Linked DNA regions of Homo sapiens. The protein of the gene in region 1 interacts with the protein of each later gene in a pairwise test. Each region holds a gene or a part of one and is shown in the gene's direction. Other genes may lie near its edges. The genes, in order: FHL3, CREB5, TTLL10 and MRM3.

Region 1 (6,863 bases):
CTCACCCAAGGCCAGTCATCCAGCTCTCAGGCTCTGCTTCCAGCCCCAGTTCAGACACACCTGTTTCCCAGGGAGGGAGGAGGACAGATAGGGAACAGGAACAGGGAGTCCTTGTGGCTGATCCCTGGACTTCCCTGGGGCACGTCCTCCTGGGCCAACGAAAATAGAGTGAGCAGAGAAATGTGAGCCTCCTGGGGAATGGAAATTGAGACAGGGAGACACAGCTTCACTGTGGGCGGCTTGCCCCTAGGCCGCTCTCCCTAGCCCAGGTGGCCCAAGCCAGAGAGCTAACTTTCTCTGGCCCCCAGACTCCAAGTCCAAGTAGCTGAACCTTAACATTTGATCATGAAAGTGGGGACTGTCCCCACATATTGACAATCTATTGTGTGCTCTCATCCAATCCTTACAACAATGCTGTGAGGCAGACTCATTCACTTTTCACAGTGAGAAGACTGAGGTTCACAGAGATTAAATGACTACAGATACTAGAGCCTAATGGTGAAGCTCATTTTTGGCATAGGGTGCTATGACTTCTGACTGTCCAGATTTGATTTTTTATTTTTATTTTTTTCCCCAAGACAGAATCTTGCTGTGTCGCCCAGGCTGGAGTGCAGTGGTGCAATCTTGGCTCACTGTAACCTCCTCCTCCTGGGTTCAAGCGATTCTCCTGCCTCAGCCTCCCAAGTAGCTGGGATTACAGGCATGCACCACTACAACCAGCTAATTTTTGTATTCTTAGTAGAGGCAGAGTTTCACCATGTTGGCCAGGCTGGTCTCAAACTCTTGACTTCGTGATCCGCCTGCCTCAGCCTCCCAAAGTGCTGAGATTACAGGCGTGAGCCACCGCCCCCAGTCGGTTTGATTTTTTTTTTTAATAGAGATCGGGGTCTCATTATGTTGCCAGATCTGGTCTTTTTTTTTTGAGACGGAGTCTCGCTCTGTCACCTAGGCTGGAGTGCAGTGGTACAATCTCGGCTCACTGCAAACTCCACCTTCCGGGTTCACGCCATTCTCCTGCCTCAGCCTCCAGAGTAGCTGGGACTACAGGCACCTGCTACCACGCCTGGCTAATTTTTTTGTATTTTTAGTAGAGACGGGGTTTCACTGCGTTAGCCAGGATGGTCTTGATCTCCTGACCTCGTGATCCGCCCGCCTTGGCCTCCCAAAGTCCTGGGATTATAGGCGTGAGCCATCGCGCCTGGCCCAGATCTGGTCTTAAACTGTTGGGCTCAAGCAATCCTCCTGCCTCAGCCTCCCAAAGTGCTGGGATTACAGGCAAGAGCCACCAAGCCCGGCCAACCATTGGGATTTGTATCCTAGCTTTGCCATTATTACCTGTGTCGCCCTTGCCAGGTTACTTAATCTCTCTGTGCCTCCATTTTCTCATCTTTAAAATGAGGATGAAAATATATATTTAGGCCAGGAATAGTGGCTCATGCCTGTAATCCCAGCACTTTGTGGGGCTGAGGCAAGAGGATTGCTTGAGCCCAGAAGTTCAAGACCAGCCTGGGCAACTTAATAAGACCCCTGCCTTTACAAAAAATTAAAATTAAAATAAATTAGCTCAGTGTGGTGGCCCACACCTGTAGTCCCAGTTACTTGGGAGACTGAGGTAAGAGGATCGCTTGAGCCCAGGAGGTTAAGGTTACAGTGAGCCGTGATTACACCACTGCACTCCAGCCTGGGTGACAGAGCAACACACTGTCTCAAAAACAAACAAATATAGATGCACATATATTTAATAAAGTTATTGAATAATCAGGTATGTCAATATATGTAAAGTGTTCAGGACTGGTGCAAAGAAAGAACTCAGGAAGTACTGGCTCTCATTAAGGCTATTTAGGAGAGATTAGAGCCATGCATCAAGAACAGAGATTCCAATACTCTGCCTTTTATCAGGCCCCTTCTGTACTCACTCATAACCCCTTGCTTTCTGAAGGCTCCCCACCTTTGCCCTCCCGTCCCCCAGAGCTGACCTCCTCTTGGTACCCACTCCACCAAGGCTGAGTAGTCTTCACTGCACTCCCCTGGGCTGGGAGTCTCTTACACCTGCAAGATACATCCCAGAGAGGCTGGGCATGGTCACTCATGCCTGTGGTCCCAGCACTTTGGGAGGCTGGGGCAGGCAGATCAGATCTTGAGGTCAGGAGTTTGAGACCAGCCTGGCCAAGATGGTGAAACCCCGTCTCTACTAAAAATACAAAAAAAAAATTTAGCCGGGCGTGGTGGTGCACACCTGCAGTCCCAGCTACTTGGGAGGCTGAGGCAGAAGAATCGCTTGAACCTGGGAGGTGGAGGTTGTAGTGAGCGGAGAGTGCGCCACTGCACTCCGGCCTGGGCAACAGAGCAAGCCTCCATCTCAAAAAAAAAAAAAAAAAAAAAAAAAAAAAAAATCCCAGAAAAAGGCCCCATCCATGGGCTGGATGCTCACTGCCTGGACTCCAGATAGCAGGTGCCTGTGATCCAAACCGAGGATGTTAGAGGGGCATACATACTGAAGCAGTGTCTGGTATCCATTCATTCATCAGATGTTTATTATGTGCCGGATATTGGAGTAAGTACTGAGAAGGCAGTGGGGAACAAAACGGAGCCCTGCCTTCATGGCTCTTACCATTTAGGCAACAACAGCAATAATAAGCAAGCAATGATTTAATTTTGAAAGGAAACCAGACCTGGTGGGTGACTTGGGACCCAGGAACCCAGGCATGATGCAGAGATGGGACGGAAAGGTTCTCAGGAGCCCCAGCCTGGGAGGGTGTTAGTTCCTCCGTGAGAGCTCTGCTACACCCAGCCTGGGGTGTGGGGAGGCCTCTGTGGGCACCTGAATCTTCACTCTAGATGCTAAGGTTATTCCGGGGTTGATTTGTTGTCTCTTGTTTCCACAAACAGCACAGTAGAGCCTCCTGCCTCCCTCCCTCCCCCACCTCTTCCAGACTGAGGCTATTTATTCCTAGTGACAAGCCTGAGGATCCCAGGGGGGGTGGCCTTAAGGACCTGGAGGGGCCTCGTGTCCCTAGCAGGCGCCAGTCCTCCCTCACGGACACAGGGAGGAAGCCAGAGGCTCAGACACCGCAGAGGTCCCCTCCCCTCTCCTCCACCACCCCTGAGGTGCCCCATCCTCTCACACTCCTCACACCCCACCCTAGAAGCCCAAAGATCATGGGGCCGAGGATTAGGGTCTCCCCCGGGCCTCAAAGGTCAAAACTATTCCTGGGCACTGCGGAAACCCAGGCAAGGCAGGACTTCTCAGTGTCAGGAGGCTGCTGGAAGTGGGGAGGTGGTTACCCCTGTTTTTGCTACTCAAAGTTGTGGAATAAAACCCTTTGGAGGTCAAGGCCCTATGGTGGGGAGGGGTCCTCTCTTCGTCCCATGTTTTCAGAGAACACCTTGGTGCCCGCTGACAGGCTCATGACAGCAGAGTCAAAACGTCCTCCTCCAGGCTGGATTAAGGCCGGGCTGAGTGTCACCCCTGGGGTAAGGTGAAGGGGTGGGGGGATCCGAGGAGGCCAGAGGACTCCCCCAGTGGACCATGGTCTGCGGGGTCTCGTGTCGCCGGCCTGAGATGGAATACAGCAGTCTCCCTCTGGCAGCTGGGGATGGGGGGTGGGAGGGGAGGAGAACAGAGGCTGCGGGGAGGGGACAGGGGCGGGGTCCCGGCCGCTTGAAGGTTGGGAGAGCCAGGTTAGGCCGGGCGGGAGGAGGGGGCCGGGCCGACTGGCGGCCGAAAGGGAGGTGGGGGCGGGGTCTGGCCCCCGCGGCGGGCTGGGGGGCCGGGGGCGGGGTCCGGGCGGGGCGGGCCCGCGCTCACTTCCTCGGGGAGGGGTTGGGGCCGCGCTCCCACTCGCCCACACGGTCCGTCTGCAGTCGGCAGCCTCGCCGGCAGCTCGCTCGGCCCCCGCTTGGCCCGGCCCGCAGGTAGGAGCCGCCGAGGGACGCGGCGCCCGGTTCCCGGCCCCGCCTGCGCCGCGCGCTCCCCGCTCCCGCCGCCCGCTTCGAGGTGAGCGCCCCGCCGACCCCGGCTCCCAGCCCTGGCGGTCCGCCCCCGCGCCCAGGCCGGGGAGCGAAGGGACCCGCGGAGGGCTGAGGCCAGCCGCGGCCCCGGTCCCCTGTACCCGCCGGGCTCTGGCCACGGGTGCCCGGGGCACGCCGAGCCCGGGACAGCGCCCGCCGGGACTGGACCCCTCCGGGCTATCGGGCGGGGCGGGGGCGGGGGCGGCAGCGAGAGTTGGGCGGGGGAGGGGGCTAAGTTTGAAATAGAAAAGCCGGAGAGAGACAGACAGACCGACCGACCAGAAGCGCTGGAGAAACTGAGGTTCTCGGAAAGCCCGGTGGAGCGAGAGACCGAGACAGGCAGGGACTCGAGGCACAGGAGGCTACCGAGACCACTGAAACAAGGACACACCGGGCGTACAGAGTTACTGGTGGACAGACCCGAGGCATGGGGGCCGTCCTAGGCTTTGTGGAGCATTTTCAGAAAAAGCATACGTGGGACCCCAGCGAACACATTCCCTAGGGCCCTTCCCCGGGCCTTGGAGGTGCCCTGAGGCTTGGGCGTCATTGGCCTCATGCTGAATCTGCTCTCTGAGGCCTGCAGAGACGCTCAGAGACTAGAGACAGAGACATTCAGGCGTGCAGAGGTGGCGAAAGAGACTTGGATGCAGAGACAGAGAAAGGGAGGTGGTGGGGATTGAGACATTCAGCCATGTAGACAAGAAGAGACCAAGACTTGAGATCCACAGAGGCATGGGCCCCCTGGGGGACAGCCAGTCAAGATACAGAGCCGTCCAAAACCTAAAGACAGAGACTGAAGTGTGCCCAGACACAGAGATGCTGAGTGAAGCAGAGACAGACACCAGAAACTGAGACTAAGTGGGGGCAGAGAGACCTAGGTGGTCTGACAGCTTCCAGGACAGCCCCTGACTTACCCGGGCCTGAACCATTGGGAGGTGAGGCTGTGGGGAAACAGAAACTCTGAGCCTACCGATCCCCCATGAGGCAGAGGCCCTGAGACAGTAAGTTCGAGATCAAGAAGAGCCCCACGCACACACACAGCCACCAAGACAGCCCCAACTTATTTTTGAACTCAAATCTTGGATGGGCTGCCTCAGCCCTGGGGGACCCAGGGTGAATGAACTGTTCCTCTCATGTCCCCAGAGCAGCTGCGGGATCTTGCTCCCCAACCCCCTTCCCTAAACTTCTCTGACTTCCAGGCCACATGGGGGAGAGCAGAGCTTGGGGTTGGTGCCCGGTAGCAGAGGGTGAGGGTTGAGGGAGTTGGATTTCTCCCCTTAAGTCTCCTGTCAGCTTCTAGAAGGTGGGGGAGGGGTCTGTTCTGATCCTGACTCACAGCTGTGGGACCTGGCCAGGGTCCTCCTGGACAGTGGGCATGTTGGGGGTGGGGGCAGAAGGATTGAATGGTTGGCATGGGGCATTGGAAAGGCTTCTGGGTGTCTTCCAATCACAGGGCTAGCAGCTGAGGAGAAGAGCCAGGCTCTGGTGCATCTCCTGTTCCCCTGCCCTTAAAAACTGACCACCCCCATGTCACCATCCGCTTCATCACCAGGGCAGCATTTTTAGGGAGAGGGAAGAGCTCTGGGCTGGGAGGCAGGGGACCTGGGTCCTGATCGGGACCTTGGGCATGAACCTGCTCTATTCCTGGCCTCCTTGTGCTCAGCTGTAAAATGGGGATGATACTCTGTCCTGCCTGCCTTTTGTGAGATCTGATGAGATTGTGGTGGGCATGGACTTTGTGAGTGGCAAAGCAGCATGCAGGTGTCTACATCCGTGGACCTGCATGAGAGATCTCAAGAGTTAAGCTTACTAGAGTCAGGCTGACCGGACTGAAGCGACCACTTTCCCCACTGGTGTCCTCAGCAAGCCCCATGGGCCTGGGGCCCCCTATTCTCTCCCTGGGCCTATGCTGAGAATGTCCAGGTCAAATTTCAGACCAGGCTGGGCACAGTGGCTCACGCCTGTAACCCCAGCACTTTGGAAGGCTGAGGCCAGAGGATCACTTGAAGCCAGGAGTTCAAGACCACCCTGGGCAACATAGTGAGAACCCCATCTCTACAAAAAATAGAAAAACCTAGCTGGGCATGGTGGCACATGGCTGTAGTCCCATCTACTCAGGAGGCTGAGGCAGGTGGTTTGCTTGAGCCCAGAGTTGTTTTTTTTGTTGTTGTTTTGTTTTGTTTTGAGACAGAGTTTTGCTGTTGTAGCCCAGGCTGGAGTGTAATGACATGATCTTGGCTCACTGCAACCTTCACCTCCTCGGTTCAAGCAATTCTCCTGCCTCAGCCTCCTGAGTAGCTGGGCTTACAGGCGCCCGCCACCATGCCTAGTTAATTTTTGTATTTTTAGTGGAGATGGGTTTTCACCATGTTGGCCAGGCTGGTCTTGAACTCCTGACCTCAGGTGATCCACCGGCCTTAACCTCCCAAAGTGCTGGGATTACAGGTGTGAGCCACCTCACCTGGCTGAGCACAGAAGTTCGAGGCTGCCGTGAGCCATGATCGTGCCACTGCACTCCAGCCCTGGCAACAGAGTGAGACCCCAACTCAAAACAAAAAAAAAAAACAAAAAGGCTGAGCGGACACCAGCTTGGCCAACATGGCGAAACTCTCCATCTCTACTAAAAATACAAAAATTAGCTGGGCATGGTGGTGCCCTCCTGTAATCCCAGCTACTTGGGAGGCTGAGGCAGAAGAATCGCTTGAACCTGGGAGGTGGAGATTGCAGTGAGCCGAGATGGAGTTAACTGCGCTCCAGTCTGGGTGACAGAGTGAGACCCTGTCTCAAAAAAAAAAAAAAAAAAAAAATTGGGCTGGCACTGTGGCTCATGCCTGTAATCCCAGCACTTTGGG
Region 2 (4,907 bases), on another chromosome or scaffold:
AGAAAAAATGCAAATGGAATAATTTTCTATTATATTTTAGACAAACATATCATTTTCGAGTATTTTAAATACTGAATTCATAGTTGTTGTTTTTTAAATTCCAACAGTAACAGCTGAATGGTTTAATCTGACTGGCTTCCTAAGAAATGTTTAAGACTCAGCTTTAAAAAGAAGTTAACATTCATATCTCTGTTTTGAAATCAAAAATCATATTTCAAAATTCTTTCCTAGGACCATCTATGTGTCTCCCCTCCCCTCCACAAAAAGGAGAAAGAGTGCATTAAAATGTTTAGTTGGGTTTTTTAATTTTTAATTTTTATGTTATGTTTTGCTTTGTTTTAAGTAAACAAAAATTTTTCTTTCTTTACTGCATGCATAGCACTTAATAAAATGGATTTTTAAAAAATCCACTAGTAATATCAGAATGTCCAGGGAGTGACTGTCACTACAATGATGGTTTAGTTTACTTCTGTTCCACCTTTTGATTGAAATATTTAGTTGTTAGGCTGAAAGCCTCGGCAGTTAAGAACTTGCCTGAGTTTTCTTCGTTCAGCAACTTGACAGTTTGACTGATGTGCATTATATATAGCTCAATTATGTCTGTTTTTTATGCTAAGTAGGAAAACCAACCACACACATTAGCAAACCGGCCTCAACATATAATTAGAATAAACTGTCTTCTTGTTCTACTCAGGGCCTTTAGGTGTGTTCATTCACGGTATGGAAATACAGTAAATGAAAGATTCCAACTAGTTGTCAGTGCTTCTTGAAATTCCAAACAGAAAGATACATTGGTCAAATCCAACACTTGGCTTATCAATATTAAGTCTTTTACCTAAAGGCCCAGCCGTCACCAGACAACAGAATAATCAATCTGCCTGAAAATCCCTCCTCCTTGTCCTACACTTTTTGCCTGTTTGGGAGAATATCTTTGTACTCCATTCTCCTCCCTCAGCCAGTTACTGGGTCACCCATCCATGTGTTCATGAATCAATCATCACGGCCTGCAGAGCACCTGTCCTAAGGAGGGAAAATCCTGTCACACTGCCTCTCCCCATTCGTGTGTGGTTTTCTTGATCGGTGAGATCTGTCTCTGAAGTCACTGCCAGCCTCCCTGGGAACGTCTATAGTGCCTCCCCTGCCTTATGTGATGGGAGTTAACAACTCAGATAAGTACACCTGAGAGCATTTCTATCAGGTAAACTGTCACTTAAATGGAGGTGTCCACATCTTAATTGTTTCTCCTTGACACATTTCTCAATCCACGAAGCCAGGAGAGGTAGAGTGAAAATCCCAGCCATGGATGAATGTACTAATTTGAAAGCCAAGTGTTAAGTCGGATGTTTTCCCGTTACACTACTACTCAGCCCTCTCCTGCGGCCACATCAACGGATGCAAGTCACAGTCTTAACACAGCCTGTGGGAGACAAGCAGTTTGTGTGCTCACAGTATATATTATAGTAATTAGGGTGACTTAGAGCAAATACTCTTCAGATCCTATGTAGTCAGTGAAACAAAATGGAGAGCGTATTCTGATAGAAGGACGTCGACGGTGAATGTTCTGGTGGTTGTTGCCTGTTAAGTAAACTTTAGTGTGTAAGTTGAGTTTGTCATTAAAATCATAAACCAGCTGCGGTAACAGACAAGCCTTTGGCTGGGGAGTTTTAAGCCTCGGTAACTGCTATAAAACTAGCCATCCAGTTAGGATAGAATGTGTTTCTTTCTGGTTAAAAAAAGGAAAAACCATCTAAGAAAATATATATGTATGTATGTGTGTATACAGTGGAATTCAAAGGACCAAAGCAAAATTTGAACAGGAATCTATTAATTTAGAATTTTATAAGATATTTATTAATAAATGTTATTTTTAAACATTCCATTTGAACAGTATTCTGTAGGATCTACTTGTTTTTAAAGTGTTAGTCCATAATAAACTACTATAGTTATGTGTATTTTCATTTTTCAGGGTTTCAAATGGCTATTCTCCATCATTTGGTGGAAATGTTTGCTTAGATCTCTGTGCATAGACATTTCAAGGATTTTTATTGCTCTGTGAGTTATTTTTTAATCAACATTCTGAACAGTTTTTTTTAAACATTTATTTCTGTGTGTTCATTTTTAAAGTAAGCTCTTTCATTTAGGAAGCAGAGTTCAGCTAAAGGGAATCAGTAACTCTAACTGGAACAGCTTTCTTGTAGAAGTGTAAAAACAGCTTCATCTCTGCCTCTCTCCACCCCACCCCAATTTCCTAGAAAGCCTTGCACTATTCAGCTCCCTTAGTGCTTTTTGTCCCTTCCCGAACAATATGCAGTAGCTTTAAGCCATTCAAGCTCCATTATGCAGTATATCTGAGAAGGGAAAGGAAACAACCCATTTAAATTTGAATAAAACCGTGCCTATGCGAACAGTAGCAATTTAGAATCTCTTTTCTGCTTTTAAAATAATTTATATTTAAAAATTGCACTTTAGCTTTTTGATCCCTTTGTATTTCTCTTATTCTCTTTCTAACCTCTTCTCTGTCCTCAAACTTGCCTTTGCTCTCCTTTACAATACCCCCCACCCCTCCTCCAAGGCTCTGAGCGGCATCATTTAAAATACTTTACAGATATTTGCACCAGGTACATTTATGTGCGTCCATTGGTAGCACAGCTGAGACCTGTGTCTCACATCAGCCTAGGTGAAGCCTACTACAAGAATGCCAAGGAGAAGAGCCAGTACACTATATGGTTTATACTCTTTATCCCTTTATTCATAGCATGTTTTTTAAAAATGTTATATTATGCAACAGATGTGAGGCAGCAGCTAAGCTATACTTAAGAATTTTCTCTCACCTTCCAAACCAAAGTGTCCTGAATAAGCCAGGAGACTTATTCTTTTGTGCACCCTGGTGCACATCTGACTGTTGTCCTAGCCATAGACTCTCTGAGGCCACTGAAAGAACAGTGGCCCTATCGATTTCATTCCTAGGTCTCAAAAATACAATGTTGCCTTGTAACATAATTAGGGACAGCACCTCTATTTCACAATTATAATCTAAGGTAGGATAAGACGACACAGCAGCAATAAACTTACAAGTAAAATTCAATACCAAAACAAACACAAAGAAATTTAAAAAACAAAAAACCTAGCTCATCATGTTGTGAAAATGAAAAAGTGAATGTCCATTCAAAATATTTTACTATTTCTTGTGGAGTTTTTCAGTGATGTAATGCTTGTAGCCAAATTGCTTAAAGAGTGTTTATATATTTTTTTCCTTATAAATTGTCTATTTTTTAAAAAAGCTATTTAACCACAGCTGAAGTGGGGGGTAAGGCCAAATTGCCAACACTTGTTAAAAGATTAATACTCTTAAGTGGCACTCTGATACCTTTCCAACTTGTCATCAGAAAGGAATCAATAATTACCAACTGTTGTATTTAGACCAACTTACAATATCTAGCTCATTAGAAGCCAGGATCTAGAAAGCTCCTTCTAAGCCATTTAAGATATTCTTACATTGAGCTTCATATTATAGAACTTTATAGGATTGGATATTTTACAATAGAATAATTTAGCCTCAGGACTGAGAATGTGGAAGCTGAATAAATTAGCTTTAAATACATCATTAAAATCTTATGCACAATAAGCTCATTAGATTCTAGTTTTCTCCTTTAGAATACCAATGCCACAGACACTACAGGAGATAATGAAAGGTATCAGTTGTGTTGAGTGGAGGGAGTTTAAGAGAAAGGACCCTTCCCAACCAGCAGCCAGTAGAAAATACAACCTACTCACCTTTTTCCCTTCTAAGTTCTGCTAAATCACATCTGCCTCATAGAGAAAGGAATGTTGCCTTTGAGAACTGTCTTGGAGAACAGATAAGCTTGAAATGTTCTCTCTAGAGAGGACATAGGGTTTGGGATCCTCTGAAAAGGCCCAGAAAAATAGCTCAGTTCAAATACAATGTTCTAGGACAATTGGAATATAAATATTGTCCAAAAATATAATTAAAAGAAAAAAGTTTAGCACTGTGTAAAGTAAGTGTTAACTGAGGAAGTCCCAAAAAGGTGCTGTCACTTTAAGTTCTGGACTTGGGGTTCTTTGTATTTGTAAACAGCAAAGCATTTGTGTTTGTTTGTCTATTTGTAAAGCAACCACCTTCCTTATTGGAAGGAGAAAAAAAGGGGTACATACATGTAAATACTTGCTGCAGCATTTAATATGTTTAATTTTGTGTTAAGCTTTTTGTTGCATCGTGAACACATTTATTGTTACCAATGGACAATGAGTTCATTAAGACTGTTCAACTAGGTCAGATTTTTACATCTCTTTCTAGCAAGAAGAGACAAGATTTTGTGCATTTGTACAAATGTTAATATCACTGCAATTCCAATATAATAAAGCACTCAAATGCAAATAATATATGTCACCTTTGTATGATGAAATTTGGGGTTGGGGGTAATGACATCTATTCCTCACATAGTCTTGTCAGAGGCATGTGAACCAGAGCAACTCCATCTTGAATAGGAGCTGGGTAAAATAAGGCTGAGACCTACTGGGCTGCATTCCCAGAAGGTTAAGGCATTCTAAGTCAGTGGATGAGATAGGTTGGCCCAAGATACAGGTCATAAAGACCTTTCTGATAAAACGGTTTGCAGTAATGAAGCCAGCTAAATCCCACCAAAACCAAGATGGTGACAAGAGTGACCTCTGGTCGTCCTCACTGCTACACTCCCACCAGCGCCATGACAGTTTACGAATGCCATGGCAACGACAGGAAGTTACCCTATATGGTCTAAAAAGGGGAGGCATGAATAATCCACCCCTTGTTTAGCATATCATCAAGAAATAACCACAAAAACGGGCAACCAGCAGCCCTCGGGGCTGCTCTGTCTATGGAGTAGCCATTCTTTCTTTCCTTTACTTTC
Region 3 (7,030 bases), about 37 Mb from region 1:
TCTTTTGTATTCTCTGTGCCTTTGCTTTAAAAGCACGCGGCTCTCTGAGGGGTCCTGTCTCCATCACCCCAGCCTTTTCCAGGCTGGTTTGTTTCCCTGTTTCTCCCCTTTTCTCTTCCTCTGTGTGCGTCTGTGTGTCTGTGTGTCTACATGTCTGCGTGTCTGTGTGTGTCAGCGTCTGTGTGTGTGGGTGTCTGTGTGTGTGTGTGGGTGTCTGTGTGTGTGTCTGTGTGTACGTGTGTGTGTAGACGTGTCTGTGTGTAGGTGTCTGTAGGTGTGTCTGTGCATGTTTATAGGTGTGTGTGTGCATGTCTGTAGGTGTGTCTGTGCATCCATGTGTCTGTGTGTGTAGGTGTGTCTGTGCATCTGTGCAAGTGTCGACATGTCTGTGTGTGTCTGTGTGTAGCTGTGTGTCTGTGCGTGTGTGTGTGTAAATGTGTCTGTGTGTCATTCTTTTTTTTTTTGAGACGGAGTCTCGCTCTGTCGCCCAGGCTGGAGTGCAGTGGCACGATCTCAGCTCACTGCAAGCTCCACCTCCCAGGTTCAAGCTATTCTCCTGCCTCAGCCCCTCAAGGAGCTGGGACTACAGGCGCCCAACACCATGCCCGGCTAATTTTTTGCATTTTTAGTAGAGACAAGGTTTCATCATATTAGCCAGGATGGTCTCAATCTCCTGACCTCATGATCTGCCCGCCTCAGCCTCCCACAGTGCTGGGATTACAGGCGTGAGCCTCCGCGCCCGGCTGTCCTTGTGTCACTCTTCTTCACACTTGGGAGTCCCTCTGATGATGCCTGTTGGGCCTGGGCAGCCCCTTTGGCTGAGAGTCAGTACTTTAGAGGATCCCCTTCCCCAGCAGGAATCCTGGGTGCTGAGGGCCCATGAGAAGGAGCTGAGGTCTCCCATTTAATGCAGAGTCTTGCACGCACACACCTGCTCCGTGCCTGCGCAGGGTCCAGCCTCTTCCAAAAGTCCTCCTGTTCTGGGTGGGGAGGGGTCTCAGGGCTCCTGACTTCTTCCATTCTTGCCCAGCCCACCCTAGGAAGAGGGCGTGAGGCTCTCCCAGACACAGGTGGGGGGCCCAGCCTGTGTTCCGCTCCTCCCTGAGGACGGGTCCCAGTGGCCCCACCCGACTGGGTCATCGTGCAGACGGCTGCCTCAGTTTCCCCACCTTCCCCTGCCCGTGGGCTTCCTCGTTGTCTCCTTCCCTCCTGTCACTCAGGCGGGGCAGGGAGGGGCAGACACAAAGGCTTCCTGCGGGTGAGATTGGTGCCGAGCTCTGTGCCCAGCCTGGAGCCTCAGGCCTACCCCAGCCTTCTCCAGCCTCAGAGCCCCCACAGCCTCTGCCCAACACTGCCGTGTGCTCCCCTGTCTCCTGGGCGAGTTCCTTCAAACCCTTGAAAGCCCTCACCTAAGCCGGGCACAGTGGCTCACACCTGTTATCCCAGCACTTTCAGAGGCCGAGGCAGGCGGATCACCTGAGGTCGGGAGTTTGAGACCAGCCTGACCAACATGGAGAAAACCCATCTCTACTAAAAATACAAAAAGTTAGCTGGGCATGGTGGTGGGTGCCTGTAGTCCCAGCTACCTGGGAGGCTGAGGCAGGAGAATCGCTTGAACCTGGGAGGCAGAGGTTGCAGTGAGCCTAGATCGCCCCATTGCACTCCAGCCTGGGCCACAAGAATGAAGCTCCGTCTCAAAAAAAAAAAAAAAGTTCTCACCTCCCAAGCAGCCCCAAGATGGGTTTGTTTGCTGGAGACAGAGGTAGAAAGATCTGTCGAGGAACTGGCTGAAAATTCCTAAGTTGCAACATGGGAAGGTGTTGCTGGAGACAGTGTCCTGGGGGTCGGGCCTGGCACCCAGGGGCGGCCGCAGAGGAACCCTGATGGCAGGTACCAGGCGGCTGCACACAGCCCACAGCTGGGCTCCGGGGTCAGCAGCGGAGACAGAGAAGACCCCTGCTCAGGCCAAGGAGCCCTCCCACCCTCCATTCTTCAGGCAGGCGCCCCACCCAGCAGGCCTGACGCTGCCCCTCCTTCCAGCCGGCACCCAGGCCGAGCTCAGCCACACCTGAAGAGCCGCTCCGGCCAGGGAGGACATGCCCGGCAGAGACAGGGTGCAGAGACAGCCTCGCCCCCACACGGCGCCAGGCCCCACAGCTGCCACAGAGACGGGAGCCAGCCGCACGCAGAGGCTCAAGCCCACGGCCCTGGGAGGCGCCCTTTCCTGGGCAGGGTGGGCCTGACTGCCTGCTCCATCCAAGCACTGGGGCCTCGGGCCGCGCGGAGGTCCCACAGGAGGGTCAGAGCGGCATCTTCCCTTCAGGGCCCTCGCCCGGGCACCCCCCGGCCAATGGACCACAGCTGCACCCGGTTCATCCACCGCCGGGGACCACCCACTCGGACCCGAGCCGGCTTCAAGAGGGGCAAGAGGCCAAGGATCCAGCAGAGGCCTCGGGCTCGAGTCTCAGGTGAATAGAGCAGCCCTGGGTGGCCTCCTACCTCTCCAAGGCCAAGGCCTCCCTGGGACGGGTGCCCCATACCCAAGGAAGTCAGTCGGCCTCATGGGGCAGGGGCAGGATCCACACATGGCCATGCCCCGCTGCTCCGAGAGAGGGGCCAGCTGTGGGCGCCGGGCTCTGCAGGCACAGAGGGGAGCTGTCGCGCTCCGCGGCCCAGGGTTCCGCCTGGCTGGCACCACCCCTGGAAGGGCAGCCCCTCGTCTCCCGGCCTGACAATGGCCCCTTGGGTCACCCATGACATCATCATGGACATTGTGACCCCTGCCCTCCAGGGACCATCCCTGCGTCACGTCTGCACCCAGCACCGGCCTCACAGCCCGGCCCCTGCCCTGCACCAGGCCACTGCCCTGTTGGTGAGGAGGGTCGGAGGGGCGACCTCCCTGCCCCCTGCTCCAAGCTCCCCACCCCCACCTGGAACCTGCCGGCAGGAAGCCTGGCCCTGGAGGGTGGTCACGGCCCCTCCCCAGATGTAAGCAGTCCCCAGGCCGCCTGGTGGGGCCAGAGCTCGGGCTGAACTTGAGCCCCAGACGGGCCAGGGGGATTGTCCAGGGTATTGGAGAAATGGGCTGGGAGCAAACTGGCTGAGCCATGTCCGGGCTGAGTGGGCAGCTCCCGTAGCCACCCCGGTGGGACCCCACCCCGTTCACAGGCCCGGCCCACGAGAGGCCAATGGGGAGCAGCCAGGAGGAGGGACTCCGGTGTCAGCCAAGCCAGCCAGACCACGACGCAGATGGACACTGTGGGCCGGACCTGGAGGGGGCAGAAAGAGCCTCTGCCACACCCGGACCCCCTGGGCTCCTGAACAGCCACCGGCCTGCAGACTCGGATGACACTAACGCCGCCGGGCCCTCAGCTGCCCTCCTGGAGGGGCTCCTGCTGGGGGGTGGGAAGCCATCGCCCCACAGCACCCGGCCGGGGCCCTTCTTCTACATTGGAGGCAGCAACGGGGCCACAATGTGAGTAGCGGCCCTGGGCGCCCGTGGTCCCACTGAATACCCACCGCCTGCTCCCGGGGCCCAGCCCGGCCTCCGCTGGCCGCCCGCCATCCCCAACCCCTTGCCTCGGCCCCCAGGTCACCCCCGCCCCCACCCCTCGCAGCATCAGCTCCTACTGCAAAAGCAAGGGCTGGCAGCGCATCCATGACAGCCGCCGGGACGACTACACGCTGAAGTGGTGTGAGGTCAAGAGCCGAGACAGCTACGGCAGCTTCCGGGAAGGTAGCGGGAGCCGGCACCAGAGGCGGGCAGCCTGCAGGGGCCTCCTGGGCCGGAGCACAGGGCAGGTTGGAGGGGTGGGGACCGAGGTCCTGCGCTCCCTCCACACGAGCCCTGGCCTCTGACCTCCAGGAGAGCAGCTGCTGTACCAGCTTCCCAACAACAAGCTCCTCACCACCAAGATCGGGCTGCTCAGCACCCTTCGGGGACGGGCACGGGCCATGAGCAAGGCCAGCAAGGTGCCGGGGGGGGTCCAGGCCAGGTGAGTCTGCCCCTGCCCCTGCCCCCGTCCCTGCGCCCGCCCCTACGCCTGCCCCTGCCCCTGCCCCTGCACCCGCCCCACCCCTGCCCCTGCGCCCGCCCCTGCCCTTGCCCCTGCCCCTGGCCACCCAGGCTCCCAGGCTGGCTCCAGCCCCTGCCCCTGCCCTTGCCCCTGCCCCTGGCCACCTGGGCTCCCAGGCTGGCCCCAGCCCCCACCCGTCAGCACCTGCCTCCACCTTCCACCTGTCCTTTAAAGGGCCAAACCCCTGTCCCATAAACCCACCCTCTTCCTCGTGGCTGAACGGGGAAGATCCCACACGTCCCCAACCCACTGGGCCTGACACCCACCCACCTGTCCATCTCACAGACCCACCCAGGTACAACCCACCTGTCAATCTGCCTTCACCCCAAACATCCATCCAATCCATCCACAATCCCACACCGTGCCCACCGTCACCTGTGGGTGCCCTGAGTGAGGCCGTCCATCGCTCACCCAAGTCTGGGCCATCCATCCTAGCGACTTCGTCCTCCTGCTCCCAGCCCTGCCCACTGCCCTTCTATGGACCCACCTATCCCTCCTCACTTCATTTGGCCCAGACATTTTTGCACCAAGCACCCGCCCAGCCAACCGCAGCTGCCTCCATCTGCACCCCCCGCCCCTGGTTGCCTGTGACACCAGCTTTACACCATGTCCAGCGTCCACTTCCAGCCTAGAGCAACACAGCTGTTTCCCCCAGGCACCGCCGTCCACCCAGCCACCTCCTTCCACCACAACTCACAGTCCGCCCACTCACCACCCATGCCCCATCCCCCAGTCCCCACCCGCTCCAAGCACCATGAGCTGGCCCCTCAGTCCAGGCCCTCTGTCCCCTGGGCTGCAGGCTGGAAAAGGACGCAGCAGCGCCCGCCCTGGAGGACCTCCCGTGGACAAGCCCAGGATACCTCAGGCCACAGAGGTAGACTCAGCCCAGCTGTGAGGGGCCCTTCAGACCGAAGTTCAGACCTAAACCTGGTGTCGTCTGAAAAGGAGAAAGCGGGGCGGGGGTCCCACACAAAGGAAAACCACGAGCTAGAGTCAGAGGTTCAGCCAGGCCAGGCCGAGATCCACGCTGACCCCCCAGTGCACACAGAGCTGGGGCAGGGCCAGGGGCTCAGGCCACGCTCTCCGCCCATCCCAGCCGTGAGGACACTGCCATGAGGTGGTGGCTCACAAATGGCTGAGACGGTGCCAGCCGGGAGAGCAACCATGAGGGAAAAAGCAGCCAGCGGGAGGGGCCCGGGTGGGGGTCAGCGGCCAGAAGGATGCAGCCAGCAGCACAGCCCGTTGGGGGGGTGCTGCAAAGGGGCAGGAAACGCAAAGTCCCCACAAGGAGAACGGCCGCGGGCGCCAGGTGCCACTGCCCACACTCCCTCCCGCCGGGCCACAGGCTGGGCCTCAAACCGCCCACCCAGCCAGGGGCGAAGGGACAGCAGCTCATCCTCCTGCCTCCCTGCCCTGCAGGGTCCTGAGAATGGAAGAGTTTTTCCCAGAGACCTACCGCCTGGACCTCAAACACGAGAGAGAGGCCTTTTTCACCTTGTTTGATGGTGAGACGCTGCTGGCCGGACACCAGGCTGGCCCTGGGGAGACAGGGTGAGGGCTGGACCAAGGCGGGGGCTGATGAGGGCAGGGCTGGGTCTGGAGGGGCTGCGTGGGGCTGGGACGAGACGAGGTGGTCAGGAAGGGGCCAGGGCTGGGCCTGGTCTGGGTGGGGACTGAGGAGTTGGAAAGGGGAGGGTCTGGCCTTCGTGGAGGTTGGGGTATGAGGGCACTGGGGCCAGGGCTGGAGCTTGGTCCGGGTGAGCGTGGTCGAGGCACGGGCAGGAGCTGGGGCCAGGCGTGTGGTTAGCGCAGGGCCAAGGTTGGAATGGCCGGGCCGAGGGTCGCAGCCTGGAGGGGAGGGTCCTGGTCGGGCCCTAGGAGGGGCGTGGCTGGGTTGGGGGCGAGGCCAGGGGCTCAGGCCGCGCTCTCTGCAGAAACCCAGATATGGATCTGCAAGCCCACAGCCTCCAACCAGGGCAAAGGCATCTTCCTGCTCCGGAACCAGGAGGAAGTTGCCGCCCTGCAGGCCAAGACCCGGAGCATGGAGGACGACCCCATCCACCACAAGACGCCGTTCCGGGGGCCTCAGGCGCGGGTGGTGCAGAGGTGCGGCGGCGGGTGCCCGGAGGGGTGAGGGTCTGGGCTGGCTGACCCGGGCCCCACTGGTGCAGTCAGCAGGGCCGCCGAGGAGCCCTTGGTCGTGGAAAGCAGCCGCACCACCAGCCCCTGTGCAGACCACAGCCGGGCCCCCGTGTAGCCAGCAGAGGGGAGGGGTCACACCAGGCCGGGGTCACAGACACAGGATCCAGGGTTGAGGGGTTAGTCAGTTTGTCCTTCAGCTGGGGCCCCCTCTGTCCTGCAGGTGGCCTGGCCTGGGTGGCCTCCCGGCTGCCAGCCCCCCTACTCCCCGGCCCAGCCAGCCAGCTGCAGCCTTCAGGCCTATGGCCAAGCTGACCACTCCTTCCCTGAGTGGGAAGGCTTCCTCCAGAAAGCCCCGTGGCTGCACGAGGCTGAAGGTTTAGACCTGTCGACCTCACCCCCGGCCCTCGTAGAGCCTCACTCTGACCACAGCTGCCGTCTGCCGTCCCCAGCTTCCATCGGCTCCTCCCTCGCGTCCCTCCACCTGGCGAGCTCTCCGCCTGGCGCACCCCCTCTGCCTGCTGTGCTCCCTCTGCCTAGCGCCCGCCTGGCGCGCTCCTTCCCTTCCTCTCCAAAGCCACCTTCATGCCCTCCTCCTCCAGGCAGCCCTCCAGGCTCCTACTGCGGTTATGCCCTGGAGCACCCATCAGGGTGCCAGGCCTTTCCTCCCAATTCCCCTGACATATTCAGGCCCAGAAATGCCCCCTTTCCCTGGAGGTCACACCTGGGACAGAGGCGGGGCGCTGAGGAAATGGAACAGGCCCGGGGTGGGGTGTGAGGGGATGCAGGCCAGGCTGGCCCCGTGGCTCAGCCCA
Region 4 (7,359 bases), on another chromosome or scaffold:
GACTCATGAGCTTCTGGGATGCTGAACGTAGGGAGGTGCTGGATTGGAGCCTGCCCAGAAGAGCATGGAAGCTCTGCCACCCACTCCCCATGCCCTGCCCTGTGTATCTCCTCTGTCCAGCCATTTCTGACTCGTACTCTTTATGATAAACCAGTAAATGTAAGTAAGTGTTTCCAGCGTTTCCCTTAGTTCCATGAGCCACTGTAGCAGACTATCAAACCCAAGGAAGCAGGAGCGGGAGCCCTGACTTGTAGTTGGTCATCGGAAATCCTGAAGATCCAGACTGTGACCGGCGCCTGACGTGGCGGAAAATCTTCTGGGACTGAGCCCTTAACTTGCAGGATCTGACATTAACTCCAGGTAGAGTCAGAATCAATTAAATAACAGGACAGCCGGCTGGTGTTAGAGAGCTGGAGAATCCCTTTGTGTCCCACAGGTGTTGTATGAGAGTGCAGAGAAATGTGTTCCCGACGCTCCTGAAGTTGCCTCCCTAATTTACTGCCTTCTTAATTAATTCCACTGCTTTATACTCATGAGAGTGCAGAGAAACAGTATGTGTTCCCGACGCTCCTGAAGTTGCCTCCCTAATTTACTGCCTCCTTAATTAATTCCACTGCTTTATACTCACTTTGAGAAACTGTCTTCTGTTATCCGGGTGTAGTCAGAGCCTAAAGGAGATTTTAAGAAACAAGGTATCATACCCATTACAGGCAGCTTTGCAGCCTTCTTCAAATTCCTCATGCCGCAGAACCTGGTGTGAGATTTAGAATAAATTGTGAAGTGTTGCTAGTACTGCTCACAGCGTCTTTAGCACAGACTAAAATGTCAAAACACAAACATTATCATTTATAAGCTTTACTTGTAAAAGAACAAAAGCAAATGAGCTTTACACTTCTCCCAGGATAGAAGCAGTGGAAGGACGAACAGCTTGACACCAAGGGTCAGGCTACCAAATCAGTTGTGAAATCTATTTAGATTGGTAAGCAGTGCTATGCAGTGGGAAAAAGTGTGGCCTTCAGCATTAAAGAAGTCTGATTTGGGCCGGGCACAGTGACTCACGCCTATAATACCAGCACTTTGGGAGATCAAGGTGGGTGGACTGCCTGAGGTCAGGAGTTCAAGATCAACCTGGCAAACATAGTGAAACCCCGTCTCAACTAAAAATACAAAAATTAGCCAGGCGTGGTGGCGTGTGCTTGTGATCCCAGCTACTCAGGAGGTTGAGGCAGGAGAATCACTTGGACCATGAGATGGAGGTTGCAGTGAGCCGAGATCGTGCCCCTGCACTACAGCCTGGGTGACAAGAGCAAAATTCCATCTCAAATTAAAAAAAAAAAAAAAAAAAAAAAAAAAAAGATGGGCATCGTGGCTCACGCCTGTAATCCCAGCACTTTGGGAGGCTGAGGTGGGCAGATCACCTGAGGTCGGGAGTTCGAGACCAGCCTAGCCAACACAGTGAAACCCCATCTCTACTAAAAATATAAAAAATACAAAATTAGCCAGGCATGGTGGTGGGCGCTTGTAATCCCAGCTACTCAGGAGGCTGAGGTAGGAGAATTGCTTGAACACGGGAGGCAGAGGTTGCAATGAGCTGAGATTGCACCATTACACTCCAGCCTGGGTGACAAGAGCAAAACTCAAACTCAAAAAAAAAAAAAAGTCTGATTTGGAATTCTGTCATTTAGTAGTTGTGTAACTCTGAGCAAATTAGAATCTGAGTCTCAGTCTCCTAACATGTGATGGGAATGGATGTTATGAAAGCATCTCACAGAACCCTGCACACAGCGGGCTCTCAACGTGTTAGCTTTAGCCCTCCTTTTTGATTCCCACGGCTCCTGCCAGTTGAAGTTCCCAACGCTTCGCTCAGACTATTAAAAATCATCCTTATTGGCCGGGCGCGGTGGCTCACGCCTGTAATCCCAGCACTTTGGGAGGCCGAGGTGGGTGGATCATGAGGTCAGGAGATCGAGACCATCCTGGCTAACACAGTAAAACCCCATCTCTACTAAAAATACAAAAAATAAGCAGGGCGTGGTGGCGGGCGCCTGTAGTACCAGCTACTCGGGAGGCTGAGGCAGGAGAATGGTGTGAACCCAGGAGGCGGAGCTTGCAGTGAGCCGAGATTGCGCCACTGCACTCCAGCCTGGGCGAAAGAGCGAGACTCCGTCTCAACATAAAAAAAATAAAAAATAAAAAATAAAAAAATCCTTATTGATATCCTTCCTTAATAACACCAAAAAAGCACATGCCTAAAGCACAAAGCACTGATCCCATCACCACCCTGTTTAAGAACATAAGTGAGCTCCCATCTTACTGCAGCATAAAATCCAAATTCTTTAGCATAGCATTCAAGATACTATTAGAAGCAATGCCGACCTGTCCATCCTGATATCCCATCTCCTTAACTTCAACTAAGCAACCTCAACTAAAGGCACATAAAACCAGCGGCTTCGCAAACATGTGCCATCTCCGCACTGGCTCTTCAGTTTTACTATGTAGCTCCTCCTCTCATCTACCTGTGGATATCCTATCTTTAGACGTCAACTCGAATCCTGGCTAACACGGTGAAACCCCGTCTCTACTAAAAATATTTTTAAAAATTAGCCGGGTGTTGTGGTACGCGCCTGTGGTCCCAGCTACTCGGGAGGCTGAGGCAGGAGAATGGTGTGAACCCGGGAGGCTGAGCTTACAGTGAGCCGAGATCGCGCCACTGCACTCCAGCCTGGCGACAGAGCAAGACTCCACCTCAAAAAAAAAAAAAAAAAAAAAAGTCAACTCGAATACAAGGTCTACATGAATTATTTCCTCATCACCCAGGTTGGAAAACCGCTCCTTCTTTTGTATTTTTATAATAGTGGCTAACACTTATATAATCTACTATTACCGATATGTTAAATACTATACATATAATAAGGTGTTGAATCTTTTTTTTTTTTTTTTTTTTGAGACGGAGTTTTGCTTTCGTCATCCAGGCTGGAACACAATGGTGCGATCTCGGCTCACTGCAACCTCCGCCTCCCAGATACAGGCGATTCTCTTGCCTCAGCCTCCCGAGTAGCTGGGATTACAGGCGTGTGCCACCATGCCCGGCTAATTTTTGTATTTTTAGTAGAGACAGGGTTTCACCATGTTGGCCAGGCTGGTGTCCAACTCCTGACCTCCAGTGATCCACCCGCCTTGGCCTCCCAAAGTGCTGAGATTACAGGCGTGGGCCACCGCGCCGGCACGTGTTTAATCTTTGCAACAACCTTTTGATCGACGAGGAAATACTAACAAGGGACAGCTCTGTGGTTTCTGCTATCGAAAGTTTGGTGGTTTTTCACTATCAAATTCTGACTTCCATTACCATCATCTACGTACAAATCCAGTTCCAACTCCCACCCCAACCCAGGCCATGAGCTCTAATGGAGGATATATATCAGGGTCATTTGCACCTTTGTTGCCAAAACTCAACGTAGTACCCTGAAAATAGCAGATATTTTAAAAATGACCTGACGAATTCAGATCCCCGTCTATTGCACCGTCTATACACTAAACCGCGCTCTTGCACCTTTCAAGTCTTCCTTAGTGGTGTGTTCCCTACCTCCCTGGCTTATCAAAGGAGGTCCCCAAAACCCAGTTCCCCAACCAACTGAATCCTGCAAATAACAGCTCCTCAGGACCCGAGACAGACCGCTTCTGGGTGCTGTTGAAAAGCAGATGGGTTGAGAGTTGGAGCATATATTCAGAGACTGAGTATCCGAAACGGACTATTCAGACCAGCCTTGCTAGAAGCAGAACTCTGAATACGCTGATTTTATCTACATCAAAGGCTCCAAACCGGAAAACACAAATATTAACTAGAAAGCATTATATAACATTTTATTTACCGTCTTTTCCGGTAGACGGTAAGCTCCACAAGGGCGGGGCTCAATAAACGTTTACGAGTGGCTTAAATGAAAGGACGTGCGTGGGCACACCGCGGGGACTAATCGTGTTAGGCCCTTCTCCAAGGCCTATGATCCCCAACGGCAACTCGCCACGCTCCTGAAGCTGAACACCGCGCAGGGCCTAAGGTCGGACACCCTCCGGCTTAGGTTCACGACACACCCATTTTCCCCTCCCTCCGCCAGGGCCGGCTCGGGCGCCGGTTCCAGCCTCGCGCGCCAGCCCCTGTCGGCCCCGGCCTGCACCTTCATCCCCAGGACGTCCCGATAGAAACGCGCCGTCTGGAAGCGGTTTCCCACTTTGAATACGAAGTGCAGAGCTCTGCGAGCAGCCATGATTCCCGCCGCACGCAGCCGTCACGCGCACCGTACAGCCCAGTCCACGAAGGGCGCCACGGGCCGTGACGTCACTAGCCGCCGACGGCGCGCTTTCGTGACGCAGCCCGGGTCTCAGGGAACATGGCGGCGCTGGTGAGACCCGCGAGGTTTGTCGTGCGACCGTTGCTGCAGGTGGTCCAGGCTTGGGACCTTGACGCGAGGCGCTGGGTCCGGGCGCTGCGGCGGAGCCCAGTGAAAGTGGTGTTTCCTTCCGGAGAGGTGGTGGAACAGAAGCGCGCTCCTGGGAAGCAGCCCCGCAAGGCACCATCTGAGGCCAGTGCCCAGGAGCAACGAGAGAAACAACCGCTCGAGGAGTCCGCATCCCGCGCTCCCAGCACCTGGGAAGAGTCTGGGCTTCGCTACGATAAAGCTTATCCCGGGGACAGGAGGCTGAGGTGATGTGGTTCTTGAGCCTGTCGAATGTTCTCGTTTCCCTTCCCGTCGCACAGCGGAACCTTAACCTCCTTCCGATGGAGGACTTCTTCCAGTACAGCCCGCTGGTTTTTGTATTATGCACAGAGGGCCGAATAAGCGTCTTTGGAATTAGCTTCTGTTTCTCCTTAGCTCTTTGTTGTTGTTTTTGTTTCACCATGTTAGCCAGGCTGATCTGGAACTCCTGACCTCAGGTGATCCGCCCGCCTCGGCCTCCCAATGTGCTGGGATTACAGGCGTGAGCCACCGCGCCCGGCCCTCTCCGTAGCTCTTTATTTCTGTTACAACTAAGCGTGTCTCAGTAACAAGGATGTTGATAGTTACCTGTTTTTTTTTTTTATTTCCATCTACAGCAGTGTAATGACAATAGTAAAGTCCAGGCCATTTCGGGAAAAACAAGGGAAGATCCTGCTGGAAGGTCGCAGGCTCATTTCAGACGCTCTCAAGGCTGGAGCTGTGCCAAAAATGTTCTTCTTTAGCCGTCTAGAATACCTAAAGGAGTTGCCAGTCGATAAGCTGAAAGGTGTCAGCCTCATTAAGGTGAAATTTGAGGATATCAAGGATTGGTCCGACCTCGTAACGCCACAAGGAATAATGGGTTAGTGATTACCCAGTGTATCTTTTTTTTTTTTTGTCTTGTTCTGTCACCCAGGCTGGAGTGCAATGGCGCGATCTCGGCCCACTGCAACCTCCGCCTCTCGGGTTCAAGGGATTCTCTTGCCTCAGCCTCCGCAGTAGCTGGGATTACAGGCGTCTGCCACCATGCCCGGGTGATTTTTGTATTTTTAGTAGAGGTGGGGTTTCACCATGTTGGCCAGGCTGACGTCGAACTTGTGACCTCAGGTGATCCTCCTGCCTCGGCCTCCCAAAGTGCTGGGATTACAGGCGTGAGCCACCATGCCTGGCCTTACACAGTGTATCTTAAGGTGTGGAGACCTAGGATTAATTTCTCATACTTGTCTTAGGACAGCAGCATTGAAATGAAATTCAAAATGTTACAATTAGAAAAATATAATTCTCAAACCTGTGTATCTTAGAGTATTTTCAATGGAAATTGAAACCCGTTTTTCACTATCATTTGTGTTGTGGCTCTTTATGGTCTCTAGGAAGAACCACTATTCCTCAAACCTTCTATTTTTTAGATTACTTCTTCAACTTTCTATGTCAGATTAAAAATTAAGAAAGCGTTTACTGAAAGATTGAGCCCTTCATTTTTGCAAAACCTCTGCCAATGTGGTGATAACTGTCAATAAACTGCTTATTCCAGAAGCAGATCTAAGAAGCGAGGTACAAGCCACAATTTACTGCCCCGTTTAGCCCAATAAACAGAGAACCTTGTCTTCTAGTCTGTTCCTTCATTTGGCTGAATCTGACTTAACCTTATGTAACTCCGATGTTGATTAGCAGTTACAAAGTCTTTGGTCTAAATATGAGAAGATAAGTTTTTCATACGTTTTTGACATGGGAGTTTTAAGATATGAAAACTGAATCCTTGAACTGCTGAGAGAGGAGATTCTGGGGAACCATCTCTTGTCTCTGTAACCCAGTGAGTCACAGGGATCTGTGCCTCTGCACTCAGAGCTCTTAGATCCTAGGATGGGGACTTGGATTACTAAAGTACCTAGAATTACTCATGCTAAGTAACCATATTCTCACTAGCTACAGCCCTCTAATCCACACGCCATGCTTCAGTGAAAGTGTTATTCATTTTTACCGTGCTTGTCACTTGGGGCAGGTGTGCTCACAGTGGCCAGCCCATCTTGAACTTGTGCTTGTCACTTGGGGCAGGTGTGCTCACAGTGGCCAGCCCATCTTGAACTTGTGCTTGTCACTTGGGGCAGGTGTGCTTACAGTGGCCAACCCATCTTGAACTTCATCATCATACCTGCTTTCATCATTTCCTGGCTTATCCTTATGTTACTATATTTTAGATTTGAGGGCAGGGAATAAGGGAGAAATGGATAGGAACTGGCAGCACCTGTCAGGCTTTAGACAGACACTCCCCAGAATCCAGCGACATAAGTAGGGCCTCCGTATAGTGGGTTCTCATCACCACAGACATCCAAGTAGAAGTAAAGGACTTCTAAGGTCCTCAGCCCTACTGAATGGCTTTTGGCCATCTGTGACTCCGAAGTGGAGGCTCTCTCACAGCACACAGACGCCTAATACCCTTCCATTGCCTTCAGTGGTGGATAGGCTTTTTACCTGCACCATCTTTTAGAAAGAATCCTAAATCTTTGATTGTATCATGTTTCAGTACAAGTACTATTTCATTCATCTCCTGACTTCAGTCAGTAGCCCATTTATTGTAGCAATCATATACGACAAAATACTAGTAAGATTCAAAAAAACTGTACAGTCCCTTGGGAGCAGACTACAAAGGGATTGAATATTTGATAATTATACATAAAGAGTTTAGGGTAGTGCTTGGCTTAAAAAAAAAAGCTTACTAAAAGGTTATCATTATCACCTCTACCAGTAAACATGGTGATTCAAAAAGAAACTTGTGGATATGTGATACACCCATGTGAATAACTTCATCTATACCACAGCAATTTCATGTACTCAAAGCCATTTTTAATATTGTTATTAGCCTTTTTCCAATTTTTCTCTTTTCCCATAA

The links.
Region 2: the proteins of FHL3 (region 1) and CREB5 interact in binary tests that used the Homo sapiens proteins (3 or more experiments, as listed by UniProt).
Region 3: the proteins of FHL3 (region 1) and TTLL10 interact in binary tests that used the Homo sapiens proteins (3 or more experiments, as listed by UniProt).
Region 4: the proteins of FHL3 (region 1) and MRM3 interact in binary tests that used the Homo sapiens proteins (3 or more experiments, as listed by UniProt).

What each region holds. Positions count from the first base shown.
Region 1 is NC_000001.11:38,002,491-38,009,353, reverse strand, and holds the start of FHL3 (four and a half LIM domains protein 3), read left to right. Parts: upstream 1-3,839; 5' UTR 3,840-3,997; intron 3,998-6,863. UniProt on the Homo sapiens protein: Recruited by SOX15 to FOXK1 promoters where it acts as a transcriptional coactivator of FOXK1.
Region 2 is NC_000007.14:28,821,496-28,826,402, forward strand, and holds the end of CREB5 (cyclic AMP-responsive element-binding protein 5), read left to right. Parts: 3' UTR 1-4,399; downstream 4,400-4,907. UniProt on the Homo sapiens protein: Binds to the cAMP response element and activates transcription.
Region 3 is NC_000001.11:1,176,866-1,183,895, forward strand, and holds part of TTLL10 (inactive polyglycylase TTLL10), read left to right. Parts: intron 1-2,040; coding exon of another isoform or gene 2,041-2,350; coding exon 2,351-2,468; intron 2,469-2,499; exon of another isoform or gene 2,500-2,690; intron 2,691-2,791; coding exon 2,792-2,872; exon of another isoform or gene 2,873-2,988; intron 2,989-3,168; coding exon 3,169-3,475; intron 3,476-3,617; coding exon 3,618-3,736; intron 3,737-3,865; coding exon 3,866-3,995; intron 3,996-4,875; coding exon 4,876-4,950; intron 4,951-5,495; coding exon 5,496-5,581; intron 5,582-6,010; coding exon 6,011-6,182; intron 6,183-7,030. UniProt on the Homo sapiens protein: Inactive polyglycylase.
Region 4 is NC_000017.11:777,994-785,352, forward strand, and holds the start of MRM3 (rRNA methyltransferase 3, mitochondrial isoform 1 precursor), read left to right. Parts: upstream 1-4,359; 5' UTR 4,360-4,385; coding exon 4,386-4,699; intron 4,700-5,089; coding exon 5,090-5,334; intron 5,335-7,359. Other genes in the region: GLOD4 (glyoxalase domain-containing protein 4), read right to left, coding at 629-751, 2,621-2,745, 4,173-4,262. UniProt on the Homo sapiens protein: S-adenosyl-L-methionine-dependent 2'-O-ribose methyltransferase that catalyzes the formation of 2'-O-methylguanosine at position 1370 (Gm1370) in the 16S mitochondrial large subunit ribosomal RNA (mtLSU rRNA), a conserved modification in the peptidyl transferase domain of the mtLSU rRNA.